Homo sapiens: one gene and its partners. The protein of the gene in region 3 purifies or fractionates together with the protein of the main gene of each other region. This does not show direct contact. Each region holds a gene or a part of one and is shown on either strand. Other genes may lie near its edges. The genes, in order: TACC3, YAP1, MPDZ, ZNF664, MAPK9, SAPCD2 and WASF1.

Region 1 (3,500 bases), on a different chromosome or scaffold from region 3:
CATGTAACTTATGTTAGAAATGCACAATGCTTGTTCTCTGGTGCCACAAAGAAATAGTGCTCGAACATTAATTTTCTCAGCAAGGCAGTTTTTACTTTCTGCAGAAAGGGTGCCCCTCGCAGATGGAGCAATGGCAAGAGCACACCTGAACAAGGGAGGGGAAGGGGTTCTTATTCCTGACACAGGTAGCCCTACTGCTGTGTTGTTCCCCTGTTGGCTAAGGTTGGACCACACAGTCTAAGCCAATTCCAATTGGCTATTTTAAAGAGGGCAGGGTAAGAGTCAGAGTGGTGGGGTGAGTAGTTTGACGGGAAGGACGGTTAGGAACAGGTAACTCAAGGTGACTTAGGTCAGAGCAGGTGACCGGGATGAGTCAGGATGGAGCAGGTGACCAGGGAACAGATGTGAACTACTGATTAGGACTGGCGGGAAAATTGTTTACTGAAACTAGAAGCAAGGGGCGAAGAGAACCAGGAATTTTAAATGGAGAATCAAAGAAGAGATCTGGCCGGGTGCAGTGGGTCACGCCTGTAATCCCAGTACTTTGGGAGGCCGAGGTGGGCGGATCACGAGGTCAAGAGATGGAGACCATCCTGGCTAACACGGTGAAACCCTGTCTCTACTAAAAAATACAAAAATTAGCCGGGCGTGGTGGTGGGCACCTGTAGTCCCACCTACTCGGGAGGCCGAAGCAAGACAATGGCTTGAACCCGGGAGGCGGAGCTTGCAGCAAGCAGAGATCACGTGACTGCACTCCAGCCTGGGCGACAGAGTGAGACTCTTGTCTCAAAAAAAAAAAAAGAGATCTGAACATACTGACTTACTGATTCTTTGAAGACAAACTTGGAGTTCACTATATTTAACACTTAGGACCCCTAGTATCTGCCACTGGGCTGCGGGGGCAGCTGCAGGGACACACACCTGTTGGGTGCCTGCTGGTTCCACCCAGGAGCACAGCCAGCAGCCTCATGCCTCCTGCCCCCTGGCAGTCGGGTGCACGTGGAGCAGGTGGCCTTGGCCTCGACAGGGTTCCCAGGGTCCCACTGGAAGCCCCACATGGAACTGTGCCTCTGGGACATTGCTCCAGGGACCTCGGGTGCGGGCTGGCCCCATCCTGTGGGGAGGTCCTGGGAGGGTCAGTCTGGCCCGCCTGCCTGCTGACTTGGGTGTGGCCTGAGCAGGTAAAGGCGACACAGGAGGAGAACCGGGAGCTGAGGAGCAGGTGTGAGGAGCTCCACGGGAAGAACCTGGAACTGGGGTAAGGAGGCCCCGTCTCCTGTCCTCCCCGTCCCCATCCCCCTCGCCATCCTTGTCCCCATCCCCCTCGCCATCCTTGTCCCCATCCCCCTCGCCATCCCTGTCCCCGTCCCCATCCCCACCTGGCCTGGGACCGCTGGGCACCCGAGGCAATGGCTGTGTGTCTGTTCTCCTCCCACAGGAAGATCATGGACAGGTTCGAAGAGGTTGTGTACCAGGCCATGGGTGAGTGCCCGGGCCACCGAGGCCACGTGCCTCCACGAGGGGCTGCCTATGCCCCACCCTGGCCCTGCCCTGCACCCTGCCTAGGACCCCACCCTCCTGAGGCCCCTTTTCCTAACACACGAGTCCCTTCAACATGGGCCCGGCCGTGGAAGCACTGAGGCGAGTTGCGGGGAAGCTGGTGGTAGTGAGGCTGGTGGCTCCCACGGAGCCAGGGCTTGGCAGGCCCCACAGTTGTGCAGATGCTGAGCTAGCAGTGGGGCTGTGGTGGGAGCAGAGTCTGTCCCGCCGTGGCCTACCCCACTCCACCCTGCCCTCGCCGTGCGGCTATGTCTAGCAGCAGCCTCTGTAGGTGTCTGGCAGGACGGGAACACCAGGCCTCATCTGGCCTCCCAAAAGCTTGGGCTCCTGGAGGTGCTACTGTGGGGATCTGTCTTAGGCTGAGTGTCAGCCGGCGGCAGGTGACCGCCTGGCCCTTGCAGTCCCTCCAGGACCACCACGAAGCACGACGCACATCCTGGAGCTCGCCATACCGGCTCCCAGGCCTCACCCTAGGCTCTAGGGTGTTGGGCGCCGCCTCTTCAGGGACCTCTGGCCCAGGCTCCAGTTCCCTGCGGATCTGATGTGGAGGAAACAGCTGTTTCCTGGGCTTTGCATCCGGCCTAGAAGATCCTGGGTGGAGGGACCCATCACCCTCCGAGGCTCACACCCACTGCCCACCTCTCCTCCTGGCGCTCGAGTCCCTTGCCTCATTCCTTGGGCTGTCTCTGGCACCCATCGTTTCGGTTGCCTCCTCATCCTGAACGTTTGCTTTTCTTTTCTCAAGAGGAAGTTCAGAAGCAGAAGGAACTTTCCAAAGCTGAAATCCAGAAAGTTCTAAAAGAAAAAGACCAACTTACCACAGATCTGAACTCCATGGAGAAGTCCTTCTCCGACCTCTTCAAGCGTTTTGAGAAACAGAAAGAGGTGATCGAGGGCTACCGCAAGGTATGTCTCCGCCACCCTGGTGTCCTCACCTCGGAGGCTGATGGACTCATGGTCCAAGCCAGCGGGGCTACAAGCTGCTGTCTTTGCACCTTGGTCCTTGGCCAAGCCTCCCCTTGCCACGGGGGCATGGGATGACCTGTGAACGAGACAGGGTGCAGGAGTCACAGCATAGCTGGTTTGCGAGGCAGCTGAGGGCGGCAGGAGGCAGAGTGAGCAGGGAGGCCATCTGAGCCGTCCGCTGTTGTGTGACAGACGACTCGGCTATGATCAGGCATCTGTGAGATTTGAGACAGCGCTGGTGCACCGGGGCCTGGGGCACCTCGGAAAGGTGTCTGGGCTGTCCGAGCGCTTGGGTCCCAAGGGTTGGGGACCCAGGGCATGCAGTATCCAAGGCGGGAGGCCCACTGAAAGGTGGTCACGGCTGTGCAAGGCCACCCTGGTGTCCTCCTGGCCACGGGACTCTGAGCGCCCCCCACCTTCTGTGCTGGGCAAGGCCCACATGCTTGCTGGAAGGAGGGATGTCTGGGCCATCCATCTGCCCAGAGCAGGCCTGGAAGGTGCCTGCGAGGCCGCCAGAGGGTTCTGCCCACAGCAGCAATGTTGGAGCGGAGGTGCTCAACGCCTCCTGTGGAGGAGCTGGACCTGCAGGTGCAGCTGGAAGAGGGGCTGTCACTGTTGGTGCAAGGGGGTTGGGGACACCAGATGGGTCCCCTGGGAGTCAGACTAAACTGGAAAAGCGGCCCTTGCAGGGCCTGCTGAGCCACACCTCATCTGAGTCCTGAAGTCAGGTGGGTGTCAGTGGCTGGGGCCCAGCTGCCTAACAGAAGCAAGCCTGAATACTCTAGGGAAGAAGGTATCTTATGCTTTAAATTGCTGCTGCAGTTTTAAATTAGTGTCTGGCACAGAATAACCAAGTGTGAAAGGAACAGGAAACATGAGTGAAAATCAGACCCGTTATTAGAGTGAGGCATGGTGATGTACACCTGTGGTCCCAGCTACTAGGGAGGCTGAGGTGGGAGGATCATTTGAGCCCG
Region 2 (3,500 bases), on a different chromosome or scaffold from region 3:
CTTATAAAATTTTGTATTTTAAAGAGTATCTGCTTTATGAACATTATGCAATTTGGAGAAAAGTTATGAAATAAGATTATTTCACCTTCTCCAGTTAGCTACTTCCATGATGTTATGGACCGTATAGTTGTTACAACTTCTTTTTGTGTACTGAACAGACAAATGAGATTAATATCCTAACCATTAGTCAAAGATGATGATAAACTAAGCTTTTGGTGCCAAGTTTCTGTTGTCAAAGTTCATTTTTATCCTAGTTTTGATGTTTTAAAATAGGGCTGTCTTTGTAATCAATATTTATATACTTTCCTCTTGTATCTAAAGAGGAGTGTTGTTGTCATCAGATGTAGAATGAAGATTTAAATTAGTTGCCTTACACTTGTTTCCGCAATGAAACATTTTATTTTAATGCATCTTTTTAGATATTTGTTGGAACTGACTTTTAAGTTACAAAGTCTATAACTTATTGAGATTTATATTTGGCATGAAGAACCTGACTATAAATGGTCCAGACAGGCAAGACGATGTAATTTGAGAAAAAACTTAGAAATGTTAAGAAACAACCCAGTTGTTGGCCTTGTGACCATAGATGATTGAGTTTTTGAAGTTAGTTGGCCTATCATCTAGTTTCCAGGCAGCATGATTACTGAAAGATTATAAGCAGGCAATCATTCGTTGTTTTAAAGCCCTCCTTAGGTCAGTGAGATCTTGTGGAGGAGACTCATACCTTACTTTGGCAAGTGATACGGTGGAAGTATGGTGCTAGTTACATTTATCAGTGGCTTGTTTTCAAGCTCTGGGATGAATGTGAAGTATGTAAACAAGGCTTAGCCATATAATATTTGTTCTACTACATTTACTATTCAAAACTATTTTCTTTACCATCGTATTGAGCTTTCATTTTAAAAGAATTCATTCTCTTTATGACTCTGAGAGTTATTACCTTCTTCAGCTGTCTTACGGTTTTCCTACAGGAAATAGTTCTTCAAGTAGTTGGTCAACAACTTCCTATTTCTTTATAAGCTGCTGAATAACTTCCTGACTCAGTATTCTATAATATCTCTGGTTTCAAGGAGTGTTTTACTTGCAAGTTTATTTTATTGACTCTGATGCCTTATAACTATTACCATGTTCAAAGATATGTGTTCTTATATATAATGTACCATGTAGGACCTTATAATTTGATTTAAGGAATCTGGATCAGTGATTTTAAAAGTTTGTACATTTGCATTGTTTTAATAATGTTCTAATAATTTTTAAAGCACAGTTTTGTTTCATTTCCATTGTTTATCATTTTCTGAATAACTGGCCACAATGTTTTTAGTCTGCGAAGATTCAAGGTTTTTTGTGGCTGTGATTTGATTAAGTTATATTGAGTAGCTTGGTATACAATTTAAAAAGGATATGTTTTTCAGAGATTTTTGACATTGCATGGCATAAAACTACCCATATTCCTATATTAATTTGCCTTGTAGATGTGATTGATCGCTATACATAGGCTGATTCTTTTTTCTTTCTTTCCTTTTTTTTTTTTTTTTGAGACAGAGTCTTGCTCTGTTGACCAGGCTGGAGTGCAGTGGCACGATCTCAACTCACTGCAACCTCTGCCTCCTGGGTTCGCGTGATTCTCCTGCCCCATCTCTACAAAAATACAAAAATTAGCCGGGTGTGTTGGCGCACACCTATTGTCCCAGCTAATCAGGAGACTGAGGCAGGAGAATTGCTTGAACCTGGCAGGTGGAGGCTGCAGTGAGTTGAGATTGCACCACTCCACACCAGCCTGGGCGACAGAGCCAGACTCTATCTCAAAAAAAAAAAAGACTATGAACATATACAGTGTATGTTGTTATCATATACAGTGTACCTGGTATTTATACATTGTATACAGAACATATACAGTGTATCTTCATAATAAAGATTATGCCTCTTTAAAAGGAAGTTTCATGAAGAATAAGGCTATACTGTTTCTTTCTGTATCAAGTATAACCCAGAGTTTCCCTTTAAAACTGAAAAGCTTGTAATTTTGCCATTAAATGTTAAGTTGCACACGTGCACATGTATACACAAACAAAAAACCAGTTCAAATTGCAATCACGAAGTATTTCCCTATTTGAGGGAAGGCCAGTCTCTGCTTGTTTGTCTTGCTATTGAGGCTGAGTGGAGAGAGAAGATGAAAGTACGCCCTTAGCTCTGGGGGGTGGGGGAGAGCTTACTTCTGCTCAGTGGGTGGGCATCCCAGGGAAGAATGGCACACAGTGCCACAGTGATTTAGGGAGAGAACCCTGGAGAAACTGTATTCACCAGTGGCAGAAGAAAAACAGTTGGAAGATAGTAGATGTGACAGAGTAAATAGAACATAGAGATTAACATATTCCCTGGGAAAAATAATGGAATTTTTTTAGTGTGAACTAAGAAAGAAGTTCACTAGAACTTCTTTGCATTATTTAATTAATTTGCAGCATCATTCAAAGAACAGACTGTCACTTGGTGTGTTTAAAAATTATGATTCTTAGTTCTAGAAAGAATTCTAGAACTATCTCTGGAAGTTTAAATGTAGCAGACTCAATTGACTGCAAGGTGGTAGGCTAATTTTCTTTTTAAAGTCACATTTAAAAAAAAATACCCTTTCCTAAAGCTTTATCTTAGCCATTAAAAAAAAACCCAAACATCTAGATAGCATTTAAATAGTTGAAACTTGGAAAAAAAAAAAACCCAGGTTTTTACAACCCTAAAATAAGTCCTCTTTAGTTATGTAGAGAAATATTTTACTTTGTAGTTAGAAAAATAATGTGAATTCACAGCTTAAAATACTCAGGGTATCATGACTCTGCATTGCCTTGTACCTTAAGGCTTTGAGGGGAGGTAAACTCTAAACTGTTTTATTGCCAAAATATATATAGAAATTTAAGCTTAGGACCAATCAAAGTGAAGTCATTTTAAAAATCAGTTGCTAAGATTTAAGATTATTCAAACTTAATGCTACCCTCTGTAATAGCATAATTTAGCCATTAATTGTGGCTTGAAAGTTTTTAATAATAGCTGAGTAGCATTGTATAAAGGGAGGTCTTAAAGAGCTGTGTCGTTCTATAACTGTGGTTACTAGGTGATGCACTTCTTACAAAAAGGGCTTCTGATTCTAGGATTAATCAGAACTACAAGCCATGAAAGGGACATTGCCGTTTCTATGAAGAAGAATTGCTTCATGGTTCTGGTTGCTCAAGTGCTGTAGCACCAAGTTTCCTGGGAACAAGTACTGCCACCGTGGAAGCACTTTTATTTACGTAGGGCTTGACCCCTTCTAAATGCAAACAAAGAAGTTTGGTTTAAATCACAGCAGTCCTCCCCACCTCCCCTTTAATATTCTAGACAAGGAAAATGGTCAGTATTTAATCCTCATTTTGCTCCTAGCATGAGAAGAATCATAATTTTTAAACACACCAACCAAGTGATAGTCTGTTGTTTCTTTGAATGATGTTGCAAATTAATAAAATAGTGCAAATGGC
Region 3 (3,486 bases):
ATTAATGAACTTTGGTTAGTAAAGCCTATTTTTTTTTCTTTGAACACAAATTGCACATGATCGTCTTTTGAAAATGGGACATTTTAAATAAGTATGCTGTAGAGCACTGGTATTTCTGTTTGCATTTTTTTGTTGTGAAATATAAAATAGTTATAGAGAAGTACATAAAGTACACATGAAAATTAATAAGCATTTATTTTATAAATTTAATTTCATTGAATAAAACAAAAATAACTACTGAAAAAATGTAGGGAGTATCCAGCAGCCCTATCATCTATAATAAGTCAGCGATTTGCAATCAAGGGATTCAATTAAAAAGACTGTATAGTTATAATTATATAATACCTATTCTAGCTTAAGAAGGTTTAGAATAAGAATAAAGATATTGCAGTACTGGTAAAGCTATTAAAATAATTTAAACCCATGTAATTATTGTTAATATGTTAAGTCGTTTTTCAGGGGCTACAAAATTCGACAAGATTTTCTGCAGGGAAAAATTTAGAATCTCAAAATTTTACAGTGTCAAAAGAAACAAAACTTAGTCAAACGTGTTTAAAAATTTGATACAGGGCCTTTGGATTAGTGGTATAGTTCTTTATGGATATTTTATTTTATTATTTTGGAAAAGATCTTTTTTTTAGCCAATTTAAAGTGTTGTACCTACAACAAGCTAGCTATAGGCTTAATTTATAAGATTTTTAAAAAAGCTATCGGTATGTCCAAAAATACAAACAGCATTTGCTAGTGAATAGAAGAGTCATACAGTCCTTTTCCTCAGCCTAGGAACAATTTATTTAAGGCATGCTAGTTAGAACATATTTTAAGAATTTCATCATTATGGATTCCTCATTAACTTTTCCATATTTTTAATTTTATATTTAATTGCATAATTGTCTTCTATAAGCGTGCTTTAAGATGGGGTTCTTTTTCTAACACCAATGTCTGTATTTAATCTTAATCATTTAGGGTCCATAAGGAATATGAAGAATCTCTCTACCCTTGGGAAGTAAGAACTAAGACAGCTTGAATAGCTTTTTCAAAACCACAAAAAGAAATAGCAGTGGGTTTTAAATTTAGAACTTATGCCTTATCCTGCCATAGGGAATGTTCAGGTGGCTTTGTGCTTTTGCAGACCTTTGGATTTTGTCATCCCCCAAGCCCTTGTCCTGTAAAACTGTTTTTGTTCCTACCTAATCCTTTACCTTCTTTCTGTAGGTCTTATTTACAGGATAGAAAATCCTGGATTCTATTGAATCATTCCTACTAGGCAAATTCCCAAATATTCTTTATTAATTTGTGTTCCCACCAACTGCTGTGCTGAACAGCCAAAAACCCATCCAACTGATCTATCGACTGCTAAATTCTCTCTCAAATTGGTATCTCAATGCTAAAACCATTTAGGAGAAAGACCTTCTTTGTCTATGTTCATCATTGCTTAATGGCTTAGAGCACCCATGGAGCACTGGGAGCAGTGTGTGTGTACAAGCAGAGCAATTTACATTCCTGTTGAGATCTTTTTCTGTTGTGAGTTGCAAGGCAGCATTTTTTGAGAAATAAACAAGTCTACTTTATAATTTGCAGGGAGCAGCCTCTGAAGACGGACGTCTGAAAAGGGGCGATCAGATCATTGCTGTCAATGGGCAGAGTCTAGAAGGAGTCACCCATGAAGAAGCTGTTGCCATCCTTAAACGGACAAAAGGCACTGTCACTTTGATGGTTCTCTCTTGAATTGGCTGCCAGAATTGAACCAACCCAACCCCTAGCTCACCTCCTACTGTAAAGAGAATGCACTGGTCCTGACAATTTTTATGCTGTGTTCAGCCGGGTCTTCAAAACTGTAGGGGGGAAATAACACTTAAGTTTCTTTTTCTCATCTAGAAATGCTTTCCTTACTGACAACCTAACATCATTTTTCTTTTCTTCTTGCATTTTGTGAACTTAAAGAGAAGGAATATTTGTGTAGGTGAATCTCGTTTTTATTTGTGGAGATATCTAATGTTTTGTAGTCACATGGGCAAGAATTATTACATGCTAAGCTGGTTAGTATAAAGAAAGATAATTCTAAAGCTAACCAAAGAAAATGGCTTCAGTAAATTAGGATGAAAAATGAAAATATAAAATAAAGAAGAAAATCTCGGGGAGTTTAAAAAAAATGCCTCAATTTGGCAATCTACCTCCTCTCCCCACCCCAAACTAAAAAAAGAAAAAAAGGTTTTCTAATGAAAATCTTTAAAAATACTGTCAGTATTTTAAAATTTTCAACAGTATTATAAAAACATTGCATCTCCCCACCTCTAATATGCATATATATTTTTCCTGCTAAAATTGGTTTCTACAATTGAGTAAATGGCAAATACATGAAGCAATGTCCCTAAATTTTATAAAGAAATTATATTTAATGCACATTTCAATTTTCATTCTTATTTTTGACCTTTTGTAAAATATTTTCATGTTGCTATAAGTAAATGATGATGCCACCCCATGTTGACTATGGTTTTTCTAGAAAGCAACTATGCTGCTAACCATAGAGGAACATAGAAGGGTTCCAGAATCTTTAGTGCTGGTTTTAACAACCGATGCAACATTAAAAATGTGTTAGTGTGCTGTGCAATTGGTTTTCAATTCATATTAATCTTAATGACAGAGAACAATGTGTTACTAATTATTTTGGTTGTATGCCATTAGTAAATTGATAGAAAAATTAAGGGGATTAACATAACTTCATTTCATTGACTTATATTAACATCTTATAATACAATAGTTTAAGACTAAGGGAAACAGATGGAGCTGTTTATTGAGACAACTGGTGAGGAATTATCATGTGTTCATTCCCATTTTAGAGCGTGAAACTCCTACATTAGAATATATAAAGTCACTTTAAATATCTATATTTGTAACAGAAGTAGTGTACAGATATTTTATTACAGCATTTTTGTGTAAATGCAGAATTAAAGTGAATAAATAAGAATTTTCAGTGGTGCACAAATAAGCAGCAAGCATTTTTTTTGTTCTTTTTACTGTGGAAAAGCTTTGTTATATACTGTTCAAGATTTACAACTTAAAATTGGTTTTTATCATGTCTAACTGCACATATGGTGTCCATAGTTACAGCTAAAGGAACTTTGGACAACATCATTATGGAAAGCTTAATATTTTTTACCTCCACAATTTTTTCTAGCACTAAAGATTCATAGACTCCTCATAGATGAGAGGAAGATGACATTGTAGAAAGAGAAGTATCCTGCCTGTATATGTTTTTCTCAAATGCTGTTAATGCAGTAATATTGTAAGTTGCTCTTTTGTGTGGTCAAGAACTATTCAAGTGTATTCAGATGGACAAAATCATAATCAAAATTATTTGTATTAATAAACATGACAAGTCCAACTTGAACACTGAGCAAGGAATGAGGGGAACTCTGTTCTACTAGTTTTGTACCAAATTAGCTAACAAACGTGCATTTCCCTCTCATTCATCTTATCTGTAAA
Region 4 (3,500 bases), on a different chromosome or scaffold from region 3:
TGCTATGAGGGAGTATAAAAAAGGGGAGACCAAATTTTAGAGTGGAGAGAAGGGGCCTAGGAAAGACTTTTCTGTATAAATAAGATTTAAGCTGAGATTTGAAGAGTGCGTAGGTGTTAGTGTGGAGGAAAGTGGGGGATAATTTTCCAGGCAGAGGAACAGCATGTGGGAAGGCCTCAAAGTGGGGAAAAAGCTTTGCCCATTCCAGGAACTGAAAGAATGAATGTGGATAGACTATGGAGGTGAAGGGGAAGAGTGGCTAGGCCAGGGGCCAGATCAAGTAGGGTCATGTAGGGCAGGTTAAAGTGGTTGTATTTTATCCCGAGTGAAATGGGAAACCATGATATGGGTTGGGATTTACGAAGAGGAGTGACATAATCAGATTTGTATCTTTAAACAGCCACTCTAGTCGTTGCATGCAAGATGTGGGGGCGTGTTGGGGGTGGAGAGTAGAAGTGGGGAGACCAGGTTGGCCATCTCAGAGGGCTGCCTGGAAGAGACGTGAGCTTTCCCTTGGAATTCACATTGACCTCACGTTACCAGCTACACTAAGGTCAAATCAATGTTTGATTAAAAAAAAAAAAGATCCTGGCCATGCACAGTGGCTCACACCTGTAATCCCAGCACTTTGGGAGGCAGGTGGATCATGAGGTCAGGAGACCGAGACCATCCTGGCTAACACGGTGAAACCCTGTCTCTACTAAAAATACAAAAAATTAGCTGGGCGTGGTGGCAGGCACCCGTATTCCCAGCTACTCGGGAGGCTGAGGCAGGAGAATGGCGTGAACCCGGGAGGTGGAGCTTGCAGTGAGCGGAGATCATGCCACTGCACTCCAGCCTGGGCAACAGAGGGAGACTGTCTCACAAAACAAACAAAACCCCCACAAATCCTTGTTTCTAATTTTTAAGAAGTGGGGATAAATAAAAGCAATAAAAAGGTACTTGGTATGCAAAAAGTACACATAAATGTTAAACTAGTTGTCTATACTTAAAAGTATCAGAGAGTCAAATTAAAAATTGGGACATTATTTAACAAGGTTTGTATGTTTTGACAAAGCGGTAATATGTGAGATAGGAGTGAAGTGAGGCTCTAAAATGAAGGGAAATATTTGTAGATGCTATTGACTATGAAAACAATAACAAAAATTATTAGACAAAAAAATTGATGGAGTGACCATGTATTAGTATATGTATAAAATTAATAGCTTTCTGAATACCAGAAATAACCTACTAGAACCTAAAATGGCCAAAAAAAAAAAAAAAAAACCCTAAACAAGAAACTGGCTCTGACCAGGTTGCAGCAAAACAAGTGAACCGTGTAGGCACAACCTTATAGAGTCAAGTGTGCACTCTGTGGAGGAGACCATAAAGTATCCTGAAAGGTCTGAAGGGGTACCTTGAACGGAAAGAGAGGCCATCTTCCGGGCTGTGATGTCTGCATGTTATGGAGATGCTCATTTTGGGGTGAACGTGGTAGAATACTTATGAGTAATGAGGTGAGACAAATATATTTAAACATATTATAGAGCCACATTCATTAAAACAGTATCGTTCTGGCTGTAAAATATCCATACAGGTCAATGGAACTTATTCAGCACCCCAGAAATAAACTTTTTTATATGGAAATGTCATAAATAATAATGAAATCATCACAAATGCCCCCTGAGTCTAAAGAAAATGTAAGTAAATATTAAACATCTGGAAAGAGGAGTTTTACATGCTAAGGTGGATGGAGCACATGCTTTAGACTCAGATGTGTCTAAACTGGAATCTTTTAAGTGAGGAAAATTATCCCCACTTTGCAGGTGTTATGAGAGTAAGAGATAAAGGGCCAGGCACCTACAGGGCACTCAAATCTGTAAGTAGCTGCTGCTATTAGAAACAATAGAGAAAATAATAATTAAAAATTAGTGTATTAGACTACATAAAAATTTATTCTTTAGGAAGAGAAGGGAAAAAAAAAACCCGAATCATAAAGTGGAAAATATTTGTGGCAAATGATAAGCTAAGAGTTAGTATTTTCAATATGCAAAGAACTCATCCAAATTGGTGAAGAAAATAATGAAGATCCACACACAGGTGGTTATAGGATGTGAATAGACAGTTCGCTGGATAGAAATATAACTTGTGAAACATTGGAAAAGCTGTGTAATTCATTAATAATCAAATCACTAATTACCGTATAGAAAAGTTAGATTCTGTTCTGAATAGCAGCAAAACTAGAAAACATTTACAAGTAAGACATAAATGTACCAAAGCTTTATGAAGAGAAGTAAAAACTTTTACCTAAATGATTTAAAAGCTAACCTAAATAAATGGGCAGACTTGTTCCTGGAGGGGAAGGCATCATTGTAGATTGCAGTACCTCCAAATTAAACTATGATTTCAATGTAATTACAATTGAAATCCCAGTGGGAATTCTTCTGGACACTAGATAAATTGCTTCTAAAACTCTTTTATAGGAGTAAATGTCCTAGAATGGCCAAAAAATGACAAACGTTTTTAATGGAAAAGTAGTGTTGGGGGATTTGCTATATGAGAAGTCAAAGCATACTGAAATGCTGCAGTAATATAAATGGTGAACACAAGAATAGACAGATTGACGCCTGGAGCAAAGTAGAATCCAGTAACAGACCCATTTTTATATCAGAATTTAGTATATGATAAAGTTGGTGTTTTGCAACAGTTGGGAAATTATAATTCAGTGTGTTGTATAGGGATAAGTGGCTCTTTATTTAGAAAGAAAGATCCTACTTCACATTCAAAATAACTTAGATGGATTAAGGAACTAACTAAAAAAACCTATAAAAGCATTAGAAGGAAATATAAGAGAATTTGTTATGTAGAAGGATACACTGGAAATGATGTGTTTTAGGTAGGCCATTTAGGTAAGACCAAGACCTAAAATCATAAATGAAAGGATTGATAAATTTGACTATAATCACAGTTGATAATTCTGTGACAAAAAGCGTTACAGAGTGACAGACTGGGAAAACAACCTGTAGCATGTATAAAGAATAAATAGAATTAACAAATTAGGTAATGAATTGAGGATATGAATAGTTCTTAGATAAATGTGTTCAAACAGTGAAGAGAAATTCAACCTCATTGTGATTAAGAGAATGGAAATTTAAAAACTAGATTTTTTTGTTGGGAGGAGGGCATCAGGCAAAAATTAAAAACTATCCAGCGATGTAAAAGAGGCACCTAATACATTGTTGGGACATAAAATTTTTCCAAGTTTTTAGATGGCAATTTTGGCAGAATTTTATCAAAATAAAAGTACACGTTGATTTAGCAGCTACACTTCAAGGAATCTGTGCTATTTTCATAGGAGAACATACGTTAATATAAACAATGTCTATTGCAGCGTCATTTATAATGAAAAATTGAAGATAATCACAATAAATTTTGGTACCCATATACTGTGGAATATCAAGTAGCGTTTTGTTTTTTGTGGGATTTTTTGTTTGTTTTGTTTTGAGACAGGGTCTTGCTCT
Region 5 (3,500 bases), on a different chromosome or scaffold from region 3:
ATGCCGCCTGCAACCCCCCTTGTGGCCCATCAGTTGGGGTGTCTTACAGGCAGGTGCTAGGCAGTGCTACTGAACCTGCAACTTCCTGGGTAAAGTATCCTCATGCCTTACGCCATGTCAGTGGCTTGGCAGTTTGACATTGCAGGTGCACTACTCTTGTGAAAAGAATGGGTGTGGGTTGTTTACAAGTCACAGTTTCTCAAGTGAGTTTGCAGGCCGAAGTCCCCAGGCAAAAGTCAAATTCCTAAGGCCTGAGGAAGGGGCTAGGGTGGAGGATCAGCAGGAAGAAAATCCCTTAGTTATGAGGGAAAAGGTTGCAGAAGTTGTGTTAAGGCTTTGCAAGTCAGGTGGAATATGATGCATGTCTTCATTCTGCAGACACTTCCCAAGTGTCTGCTCGCGCCAGGCGTGCTTCTGAGTGCTGAGAGCTCACACAGAGTCAGCACTGGGGAGGGAAGAGAGGTGGCAACCAGAACATGAGCAGGTGAGTTTTTGTGCCACGTACAGATGGAGACAGCAGCACCAGTGCTGGCGTGTCTTTGTGGCGAAGGTGAGAAGATTGGAGGTGGATGATCATGGAATTGCTCTTCCAAGGAGAGAAAGAGCCATGGGAAGATTCCAGGATCAGACGATTCTAGACCTGTGCTGTCCAGTATGGCAGCCACTAACCACAGGAGGCTGTGGAGCACTCAGGATGTGGCCGTGCTGCAGTTGTAAAATACATACTGGACTTCAAAGGCTCAGTACTAAAAAGAGAATGTAAAATATCTCAGTATTTTTCTTATGTTGATTACATTTTGAAATGATAATATTATGGATATATTGGGTTAAAAAAATATACTGTATGATTAAAATTAATTTCACCTATTTCTGCATGCTGTTGAGCATGGCTAGTAGAAAATGTAAATTATACACATCGTTCGCATTATATGACATTGTCTGTGGGACAGCACTGCCCTGGACTGACAGACAGCATGAGGACCTTAGCAAGAGAGAGTCAGAGTATTGGGGAACTCAAGTCCAGGCGTGGAGAGCAGGAGGGGGCCGTGTGTGCTGGACTGACAGCATGAGGACCTTAGCAAGAGAGAGTCAGAGTATTGGGGAACTCAAGTCCAGGCGTGGAGAGCGGGAGGGGGGCATGTGTGCTGGACGTGTAGATGCATGGATGGAGGGTAGATAGGACAGCCTGAGGGCCTGCGAGACCACAGAAAGGGCAAATGGGGGCCATGAAGGTTTCCACTGGGGGTAAGGGGCACCATCTGACGGCTTTAGGCTGATTTGTTTTAGTTTCAATTTGAGAGTAAGATTTTCCAAAGTTGTTCCCAAATCTCAGAGTTCAGTTCACTCCCTACACTCTCACACTGGCTTCACGACCCTCACGGATGTGAAGTAGTTTATTTAGCATGCTTCATTCATTTTACTAATTTAAGCCATTTCTTTCCTAGGATTTGAAGCCTAGCAACATTGTTGTGAAATCAGACTGCACCCTGAAGATCCTTGACTTTGGCCTGGCCCGGACAGCGTGCACTAACTTCATGATGACCCCTTACGTGGTGACACGGTACTACCGGGCGCCCGAAGTCATCCTGGGTATGGGCTACAAAGAGAACGGTGAGTATAGCCGGGGCTGGAAGAGGCTGGGATGTTTAGAAATTGCTCTAGCGGTGGTCTCGAGTTTTTTCTCTTTCCTTTGAACCATATGATATATACTGTGGGGACTGTTACACCCAGAATATAGCATGATCCAGAGATAAGAAATAATTAATTGTGTTTTTCCATTGGTTAAAATCATTCTCTTTTAAAAATTCACTTTTAAAATTGTTATTTTTGAACTTTTTAATCAGAGTTAAGCTGTCTATAGCCAAGTGTGCAAATCCTGAGTGTGCAGCTCAGCTGAGGTGAGCACACCCACAGCAGCAGCAGCTCTGGCCTCCCCATGGCCCCTCCTCGCAGCCCACGAGGCTGGCCAATCTCCTGATCTCCAGTACCATGGATCAGCTTTATTTGTTGGTCTGCATATTGTTTTTTTGAATTTGATGTAAATAGAATAACACATGTTTTCATGTAAAATTGGTGTCTTTTTACATCAAAACTTAGCTTATTCTAGCAATATCAGAGCTCTTTGAAACTTGGCTTTTAGCAAATTTGTTGAAAATAACGAAATCACGCTTACTTATTTTTAAAAAGACTGAAAGTTTGCCCGGGTCATCTGAAATGAGTTTTGCTACAGGTTCATCTTGCTGCGTTGTAGCTTGTGTTCCCACCCTGAGGGGCACAGCTTCATGTGCTTCCTGTGGAGGGGAGAGAAAACTTGATCCCCTGTTCACTTCTCCCCTCGGCCCGCCAGCAGGGCACTTAGAGGCCTCTGCTGTCTGTCTGAGGCCCCACAGATGAGGGTGGGCACCGTGGAAGTCTGGGCCCCTCTAGCAGGGCCTCACCTGCAGTCCTGCAAGCCAGCCAGCCTGTGCCGCCAGTGAGTGCTGCTGCCTTTCTGACGGGGCAGTCTAGAAAATGATCGCTCAGGAGGTGTGGTATCAACAACGCACAGAGGCTCCCGCCGGCAAGCTAGTGACGTGTACCGGGTTTGTCCTGGGAGGGGGTTTGAAGAAAAAAGATGGGGGACTCTAGCTGGTTTTTAATCCCCTGGTGTTTGGTAGTGGACATCTGGTCTGTCGGGTGCATCATGGCAGAAATGGTCCTCCATAAAGTCCTGTTCCCGGGAAGAGACTGTATCCTTCACAGGGGACCCGGTACTTGGCCATGGAGGCTGGGGTGGGCGTGTGGCCCTGAAAAGCTTTGTGTTCACAGGCACTTCTTGTTTCTGGTTTTTTGTTTGTTTGTTTGTTTGTTTTAAGCTATAAAGTATTGGACTCTTTGGCACTAAAACCCCAGATTGCTACAAACCGAAGGCTAAAATAGAGGTCAGCAATCATTCATATTGTGTAAAATGTCACCCTTAGCTAGCAATTTATTTTTCCATATTTGTGTGTTTAGTGCACTGTTAGAATTCCTTTTCCTCACTTTTGTTTTGTTCATGGCACTTCATAATTTTATCATTTCATTTTATTTTCAGTTGATATCTGGTCAGTGGGTTGCATCATGGGAGAGCTGGTGAAAGGTTGTGTGATATTCCAAGGCACTGACCGTATCCTTCCCCGCGACCTTGGCCCCGCCATGCTTTCTTAATGCCTCAGGCAGCATGACCACCTGCTTACACGAGCGCTCACGAGGACAAAGTCGTAAAATCCACTCCAGACTGTGTTCTAAGGGGGGCTTTACTGTATTTGTTAATTAGTGTCACAAGCCAAGTGGTTCAATTTCATTCTTTATTTTTAACTTGACTACCTGTGATGACTTTGAGACTTAGAGTTCAGTTAAACCGATTATATTAGCTCTTAATTTTGCCAAAAATAGCTGGACACATAGAAGAAATTATTTACTCTTTGATAAGTATATTCTGATATTTAAATGAAAATACTGTATTATTTAGTTTATTCCGT
Region 6 (2,965 bases), about 120 Mb from region 3:
AACTGATCCCCCCCCGCCCCAGCTTCCCAAAGTGCTGGGATTACAGGTGTGAGCCACCGTGCCCGGCAAGGGATCTTTTTTTTTTTTGAGACAAAGTTTTGCTGTGTTGCCCAGCCTGGAGTGCAGTGGCGCAATCTGGGCTCAGTGGAACCTCTGCCTCCCAGGCTCAAGCAATCCTCCTGCCTCAGGCTCCTGAGTAGCCGGGACCACAGGTGCATGCCACTGCACCAGGCTAATTTTTGTGTTTCTAATAGAAATGGGGTATTGCCGGCCGGGCACAGTGGCTCACGCCTGTAATTCCAGCACTTTGGGAGGCTGAGGTGGGTGGATCACCTGAGGTCAGGAGTTCAGGACCAGCCTGGTCAACATGGTGAAACCTCATCTCTACTAAAAAATACAAAAAGTAGCTGGGCATGGTAGTGGGTGTCTGTAATCCCAGCTACTCGGGAGGCTGAGACCGGAGAATCACTTGAACCTGGGAGGCGGAGGTTGCAGTGAGCCAAGATCATACCATTGCACTCCAGCCTGGGCAACAGGAACAAAACAACGTCTCAAGAAAAAAAGGAAGAAATGGGGTTTTGCCATGTTGCCCAGGCTGGTCTCAAACTCCTGAGCTCAAGCGATCCACCCGCCTTGGTCCCCAAAAGTGCTGGGATTACAGGCGTGAGCCACTGTGCCCGGCCATGCGGGACTAACTTTCTATCAGAGTCACCATCCTGGGAAAAGTTAGGTTTCCGTCATTCACACCCACATCTCCTGCTGCCTTGCAGGACCCCGTGCAGATGGGAGAGGCGTAGTCAGGACCAGAACCCCCCCGCCCACTCCTCCCTTACCCAGCTGCCTTGGAGACCCAGGGTGTGCCTGCCATGTTCTGGGCACTGGGTGTGCAGAAGAGAGCTGGATAAGGCCTCTGGCCCCAGAGAGCTCACGGACCGATGAGGGGGCAGGGTGTGTGTTTGAGCAAACATGCGGGCTTGGCGGCACAGCCCTCCCCAAGCCAGTGTGAGGAGCTGGAAAGGGGAGAGGGACCAAACTCCAGCCTGGCACAGAGGCTACACGTGGGCCATGCCAGGCTGGTGCCCGAGACCTCGAGGGTGGGCTGAGATGTGGAGGCCGCTGCACCTCAGCAGAGCCTGGCCAGGCAGGTCTGGAGGTGAGCCAGGCCCATGCCTCTCCATAACAGGTGCAGTGGCGTGCAGGGCCCTGGAGGCGGACTCAGGGGATGCCCGGCGGGCTCCCCGTGCCCGAGGGGAACGTCGGAGGCACACCATCGCCAGCGGCGTGGACTGCGGCCTGGTGAGCAGGGACTGGGGCTCTGTGGGGCTCTCCATCTTGCCTGGAGGCTGGAGGCCGGGATGGGAGCAGGGGGGCCTTGAGCCTGGGGGAGTCCATGGCGGAAGTACAGTCAGCTCTGGACATCTCTCTCCCTACCTGGGCTTGACTCCCCTGGAGGGATGGCCCAGGGTCAGGCAGAGGGAGGTCAAGAGGTCGTTTAGGGCAGCTATGGTGGCTGCCCAGCCCGCCTCACGAGGTTGCTGCTGCAAGCCAGTCTGGCTTCCCAGCTGTGTGCTCACCACAGGCAGACTTCGGGAGGGTGGGCTCAGCTGAAGGGTCCGTCACCCCTCCCCCAGGGAAGCCTGAGTGGAGGGGCTAAGAAAGGCCAAGACCCCTCAGCAGGAGGAACGGGGCTCCTGCTCCAAATGGGCCTATGGGGCTCACACATGCAGGTGTCAGCAGAAGCGTGCGTCCGTGGGTGTTTGCAAACGTGTACACGTGCTGCTGCATTTGTGTCTGTGGCTCTGGTGCCCACCCACAGGTGAGCTCATGCATGTGTGGACGTGTGCGTGCTCACTGGGGCCAGGCATTCCATGTAAATGCACGTATTGCAGCTGAAGCAGATGAAGGAGCTGGAGCAGGAGAAGGAGGTGCTGCTGCAGGGTTTGGAGATGATGGCGCGGGGCCGCGACTGGTACCAGCAGCAGCTGCAACGAGTGCAGGAGCGCCAGCGCCGCCTGGGCCAGAGCAGAGCCAGCGCCGTGAGTGCCACAGCCCTGTCCCCAGATCCCCACACATGGGGACCCCAGCTCACCCCAGGCACCCTTGGGCATTGTGGCTGCCCCTATTCCCGGACACAGTGGCTGTCGATTCCACCCAGGATGCTGAGACATCCCTTTCTCCGCCTGTGGCTGCCCCACTCCTAGGGCCTAAGGTGTCTTGGGCAGACCTCCCACCTCAGCAATGCCCCTGGGACCCTCTAGGCTCTCTGCAGCATCAGGAGGCAGGAGAGCCACCTGTGGGAACCCCTATCAAGGCACCTTGCTGGCCCCGGCTGGACCTCCTCTCTGACCGCTTGTCCTCTGCTTTCTTCCCAGGACTTTGGGGCTGCAGGGAGCCCCCGCCCACTGGGGCGGCTACTGCCCAAGGTACAAGAGGTGGCCCGGTGCCTGGGGGAGCTGCTGGCTGCAGCCTGTGCCAGCCGGGTGAGTGTACCCCAAACCCCCACACCCACGCTGGGGCCCAGGCCAGTTTAGTGCTTCCCCGCCCTCGTCCAGGCCTGCCTAATCCTGCCCTCCCGCAGGCCCTGCCCCCGTCCTCCTCCGGGCCCCCCTGCCCTGCCCTGACGTCCACCTCACCCCCGGTCTGGCAGCAGCAGACCATCCTCATGCTGAAGGAGCAGAACCGACTCCTCACCCAGGTAGGGCAGGCGCGGGAGGGGTGCAGGGGTGGGGGTGAGGCCCCGCAGGCCTTGACCAACTGTGCACCTGCCCAGGAGGTGACCGAGAAGAGTGAGCGCATCACGCAGCTGGAGCAGGAGAAGTCGGCGCTCATTAAGCAGCTGTTTGAGGCCCGCGCCCTGAGCCAGCAGGACGGGGGACCTCTGGATTCCACCTTCATCTAGTCCTTGTGGGCCGCGTGGGCCCCCAGGGCCAGCCTGGCACTCAGCCCTTCGAGGGTGGGCGCCCCA
Region 7 (3,500 bases), on a different chromosome or scaffold from region 3:
GGGAGCAGGTCAGATTTGGTCTGTGGGACATTATTTGTAATCTTCTGGTTAGAGCTGACACACTCTCCTAGGAAAATTTAGCTAATAAGAATTTAAAGATTAAAGCCTGTTTCATTTTATTATAGTGTTGTTATCAAGCATATCATGTGCAGTGTATTAAGAAAAATTAAGGATTTTTTGGAATGTGGGTAACAGTCTAAGAAATGGGAACCAAAGATGTGATTATTAATACTAATTTGGTATTAAGGAAAATACTTAAAGAATTTCAGAGAGGATTGGCAGTTGCTTATAATAATCTTTCAGTAAAGCTATTTTGAAGTTTAATCTTGTCAGTTATTATCCAAATGATAAATTTCTAATAGAGAAATATTAGGGAAATTTTCTAATAGAGATATAGAGATCAGCTTTACAATTTTCAGTTAAAAATCCAATTTTCTATCACTGACTCATTTGGTGTTCCATCCTCAGGAAAAGAGAGAGCTGTAAATTTCTTTTTGTGGTTTGTAATTAGCTGTCATTGATTTAACTGAAATAGCATATGATGAGACTTCATAGTTTCAGTATAAATATAGCATTGTATTGGCCACATGTATTGCCACAAAATTGCATTATGATCAATGTTGAGTCATTATAGAGACTCCTGTCAGTATAGAATTGAGCATTTTATTTATTAAAGTAAGCATAAAATATCTGAGTGGATGCCAAAGTTGCATGAGAGAATGAGACTATTTAGACTATTACAAACCAAAGCACCACTCATTAATTTTTTTATTGATGTGCTTTTAGTTCTTTTTTTTTTTCTAAATACTGTTGAAGATGTTAAATTTCTATAGGAGCATGTTATTGGATCCATTTTGATATAATTACTGATAGTCATTTATAGTTTGTGTGGTTAGATTTTCTCTTTAGGCTTTTCTCTTTTAATAACTTGCTAGAATCTCTTTGTCATTTCAGTTCTGCTACAGGTTTGATAGAAAATCGCCCTCAGTCACCAGCTACAGGCAGAACACCTGTGTTTGTGAGCCCCACTCCCCCACCTCCTCCACCACCTCTTCCATCTGCCTTGTCAACTTCCTCATTAAGAGCTTCAATGACTTCAACTCCTCCCCCTCCAGTACCTCCCCCACCTCCACCTCCAGCCACTGCTTTGCAAGCTCCAGCAGTACCACCACCTCCAGCTCCTCTTCAGATTGCCCCTGGAGTTCTTCACCCAGCTCCTCCTCCAATTGCACCTCCTCTAGTACAGCCCTCTCCACCAGTAGCTAGAGCTGCCCCAGTATGTGAGACTGTACCAGTTCATCCACTCCCACAAGGTGAAGTTCAGGGGCTGCCTCCACCCCCACCACCGCCTCCTCTGCCTCCACCTGGCATTCGACCATCATCACCTGTCACAGTTACAGCTCTTGCTCATCCTCCCTCTGGGCTACATCCAACTCCATCTACTGCCCCAGGTCCCCATGTTCCATTAATGCCTCCATCTCCTCCATCACAAGTTATACCTGCTTCTGAGCCAAAGCGCCATCCATCAACCCTACCTGTAATCAGTGATGCCAGGAGTGTGCTACTGGAAGCAATACGAAAAGGTAATTTTCTCAGCTCCATGAAAAGCATTGCTATAGTAGCATTGGAAACTTTCTAAATATTTAAGACAAAAATGTGTTCCTTATCTATAAAATTTTAGGTGATCATGTTTGTGTACAAATGGCCTTTAGAAAGTAAAGCTATATCCAACTTATATTTAAAATTATTTTCCAGAAAATATATCACATTTGACCATTTTATTTTCATGCTTTGTAGGTATCCTTAAAATGTTTATTGAGTGAATGAGAAATTTAATATATCAGACTTAAATGTTATAGAACATTTAATTAAAACCCTTTATATTATGCTTAATGTGTATATTAACTCCTTTAAAAATGGTATTTTCTTCAATGTTAAGGCTGTTCATTTTGGGTATCCATGACACTTGCTCTACCAGATGCCTTTAGAGGAGTGAGTTTCCTCCCTTAGTAACAAAGGAAAGACTTCTCATATTCATTCATTTATTGTCATTATTTCCTAAGCAATGACTATAGGCCAGGCACTGAGCATATAGAATGAATAATAGTGCCTTTCCCTCAAATACAATGGATAATGAAGCCACAGAAAATATATTCAACAATGTTTAATTTATTTGACCATTGAGGTGATAGAAGAAATGTACCACCTCATTAATTTTTTAGGGGGTGGTGAGCAGGGAGGTATAGTAGACCATGATGGATAAATAAACTGTAGATACCTACTGGGATATCTGGTAAGTTTTACCAACTAATAACACAGATAACATAAAGATTTAATGCCTCTCTCAGTATGATTTCTTCACATTCTTTTCTGATCTTTTTATTTTCCTATAAGTATTTCTCATGTGTATTTGATTTTATTCCAGAAATATTAATAATATCTAGTATCTAGTATTTTGATTTAAATGAATGGTTTGGATTCACTGTATCAGGTATTCAGCTACGCAAAGTAGAAGAGCAGCGTGAACAGGAAGCTAAGCATGAACGCATTGAAAACGATGTTGCCACCATCCTGTCTCGCCGTATTGCTGTTGAATATAGTGATTCGGAAGATGATTCAGAATTTGATGAAGTAGATTGGTTGGAGTAAGAAAAATGCATTGATAAATATTACAAAACTGAATGCAAATGTCCTTTGTGGTGCTTGTTCCTTGAAAATGTTTGGTCATTCTAGTGTTTTGCTTTCTTTTCCTTATAATAAATGACCCTTTTCCTCCATAACTTTTGATTTCTAAGGAAAATATTAGCATACATTTCAAACTAAATGTTTTACAGTGGCTTATCTTTTTTTTCCCCCTGAAAAGACTAATTTGGTCAAATAAACCACTAAGTATTAAGCATGGACAGCTGTTGTTAGAGTAGCAGATTCAGTTTTTTGATATATCTTAATTGTGTACTTTGTGAATTTTAATTTAAAGAAAGCAACTGAAATTGAAATCTTGAGGGCAGCTGTGTCTACTAATGAGCCTTATTCCATTTCCTGATGTTTTAAAAGAAGAAACACTGCCTTGATTATACGAATACACTCAGAAAGTACATTTAGCTTGTAGTGTTGAATTCTCTTAAAGGAATGCTTGAATTTTTTCATTATTGTTTTATTGTTTTTATATACTTGCCTTATTTGAATGTTTAGCAGTATCCCCTTCCCACTTATATATTGTGTGATATGATTTTGCTTGCCTATAGGAGTTAAAAACTTTTCCATGTGAAATACTCTGACTTAAACATACATGTAACTTACATAACTGTTAAGAATAACAGTCTGATTTAATAAATGGTTCATTTTAAAAGTTCATCAGTGTTGCTCTTTGAATAAAATGATTTATCATAATTTATCAAATACTGTATGGTAGGCTTTAAATAGTGAATGAAAATTTGAAAAACACTTAGGCTACATAATTTCCTCTTAATTGCACAGCTTCATATTGTCTACTGTGTAAG

What was found.
Region 1: the proteins of MPDZ (region 3) and TACC3 purify together in Homo sapiens (affinity purification with mass spectrometry; one large-scale study listed by BioGRID and IntAct). This does not show direct contact.
Region 2: the proteins of MPDZ (region 3) and YAP1 purify together in Homo sapiens (affinity purification with mass spectrometry; 6 studies listed by BioGRID and IntAct, with this or other methods). This does not show direct contact.
Region 4: the proteins of MPDZ (region 3) and ZNF664 purify together in Homo sapiens (affinity purification with mass spectrometry; one large-scale study listed by BioGRID and IntAct). This does not show direct contact.
Region 5: the proteins of MPDZ (region 3) and MAPK9 purify together in Homo sapiens (affinity purification with mass spectrometry; one large-scale study listed by BioGRID and IntAct). This does not show direct contact.
Region 6: the proteins of MPDZ (region 3) and SAPCD2 purify together in Homo sapiens (affinity purification with mass spectrometry; one large-scale study listed by BioGRID and IntAct). This does not show direct contact.
Region 7: the proteins of MPDZ (region 3) and WASF1 purify together in Homo sapiens (affinity purification with mass spectrometry; one large-scale study listed by BioGRID and IntAct). This does not show direct contact.

The regions. Positions count from the first base shown.
Region 1 is NC_000004.12:1,738,521-1,742,020, forward strand, and holds part of TACC3 (transforming acidic coiled-coil-containing protein 3), read left to right. Parts: exon of another isoform or gene 1-1,178; coding exon of another isoform or gene 1,179-1,181; coding exon 1,182-1,258; exon of another isoform or gene 1,259-1,438; coding exon 1,439-1,482; exon of another isoform or gene 1,483-1,961; coding exon of another isoform or gene 1,962-2,041; exon of another isoform or gene 2,042-2,305; coding exon 2,306-2,466; intron 2,467-3,500. UniProt on the Homo sapiens protein: Plays a role in the microtubule-dependent coupling of the nucleus and the centrosome. Involved in the processes that regulate centrosome-mediated interkinetic nuclear migration (INM) of neural progenitors.
Region 2 is NC_000011.10:102,116,947-102,120,446, forward strand, and holds part of YAP1 (transcriptional coactivator YAP1), read left to right. Parts: intron 1-3,500. UniProt on the Homo sapiens protein: Transcriptional regulator with dual roles as a coactivator and corepressor. Critical downstream regulatory target in the Hippo signaling pathway, crucial for organ size control and tumor suppression by restricting proliferation and promoting apoptosis.
Region 3 is NC_000009.12:13,105,207-13,108,692, reverse strand, and holds the end of MPDZ (multiple PDZ domain protein), read left to right. Parts: intron 1-1,581; coding exon 1,582-1,728; 3' UTR 1,729-2,986; downstream 2,987-3,486. UniProt on the Homo sapiens protein: Member of the NMDAR signaling complex that may play a role in control of AMPAR potentiation and synaptic plasticity in excitatory synapses. Promotes clustering of HT2RC at the cell surface.
Region 4 is NC_000012.12:123,976,215-123,979,714, forward strand, and holds part of ZNF664 (zinc finger protein 664), read left to right. Parts: intron 1-3,500. UniProt on the Homo sapiens protein: May be involved in transcriptional regulation.
Region 5 is NC_000005.10:180,247,084-180,250,583, reverse strand, and holds part of MAPK9 (mitogen-activated protein kinase 9), read left to right. Parts: intron 1-1,445; coding exon 1,446-1,611; intron 1,612-2,657; coding exon of another isoform or gene 2,658-2,729; intron 2,730-2,855; coding exon of another isoform or gene 2,856-2,884; exon of another isoform or gene 2,885-2,921; intron 2,922-3,073; coding exon 3,074-3,145; coding exon of another isoform or gene 3,146-3,186; exon of another isoform or gene 3,187-3,500. UniProt on the Homo sapiens protein: Serine/threonine-protein kinase involved in various processes such as cell proliferation, differentiation, migration, transformation and programmed cell death.
Region 6 is NC_000009.12:137,064,593-137,067,557, reverse strand, and holds part of SAPCD2 (suppressor APC domain-containing protein 2), read left to right. Parts: intron 1-1,183; coding exon 1,184-1,296; intron 1,297-1,889; coding exon 1,890-2,036; intron 2,037-2,372; coding exon 2,373-2,480; intron 2,481-2,578; coding exon 2,579-2,695; intron 2,696-2,770; coding exon 2,771-2,899; 3' UTR 2,900-2,965. UniProt on the Homo sapiens protein: Plays a role in planar mitotic spindle orientation in retinal progenitor cells (RPCs) and promotes the production of symmetric terminal divisions. Negatively regulates the mitotic apical cortex localization of GPSM2.
Region 7 is NC_000006.12:110,099,671-110,103,170, reverse strand, and holds the end of WASF1 (actin-binding protein WASF1), read left to right. Parts: intron 1-954; coding exon 955-1,583; intron 1,584-2,491; coding exon 2,492-2,649; 3' UTR 2,650-3,352; downstream 3,353-3,500.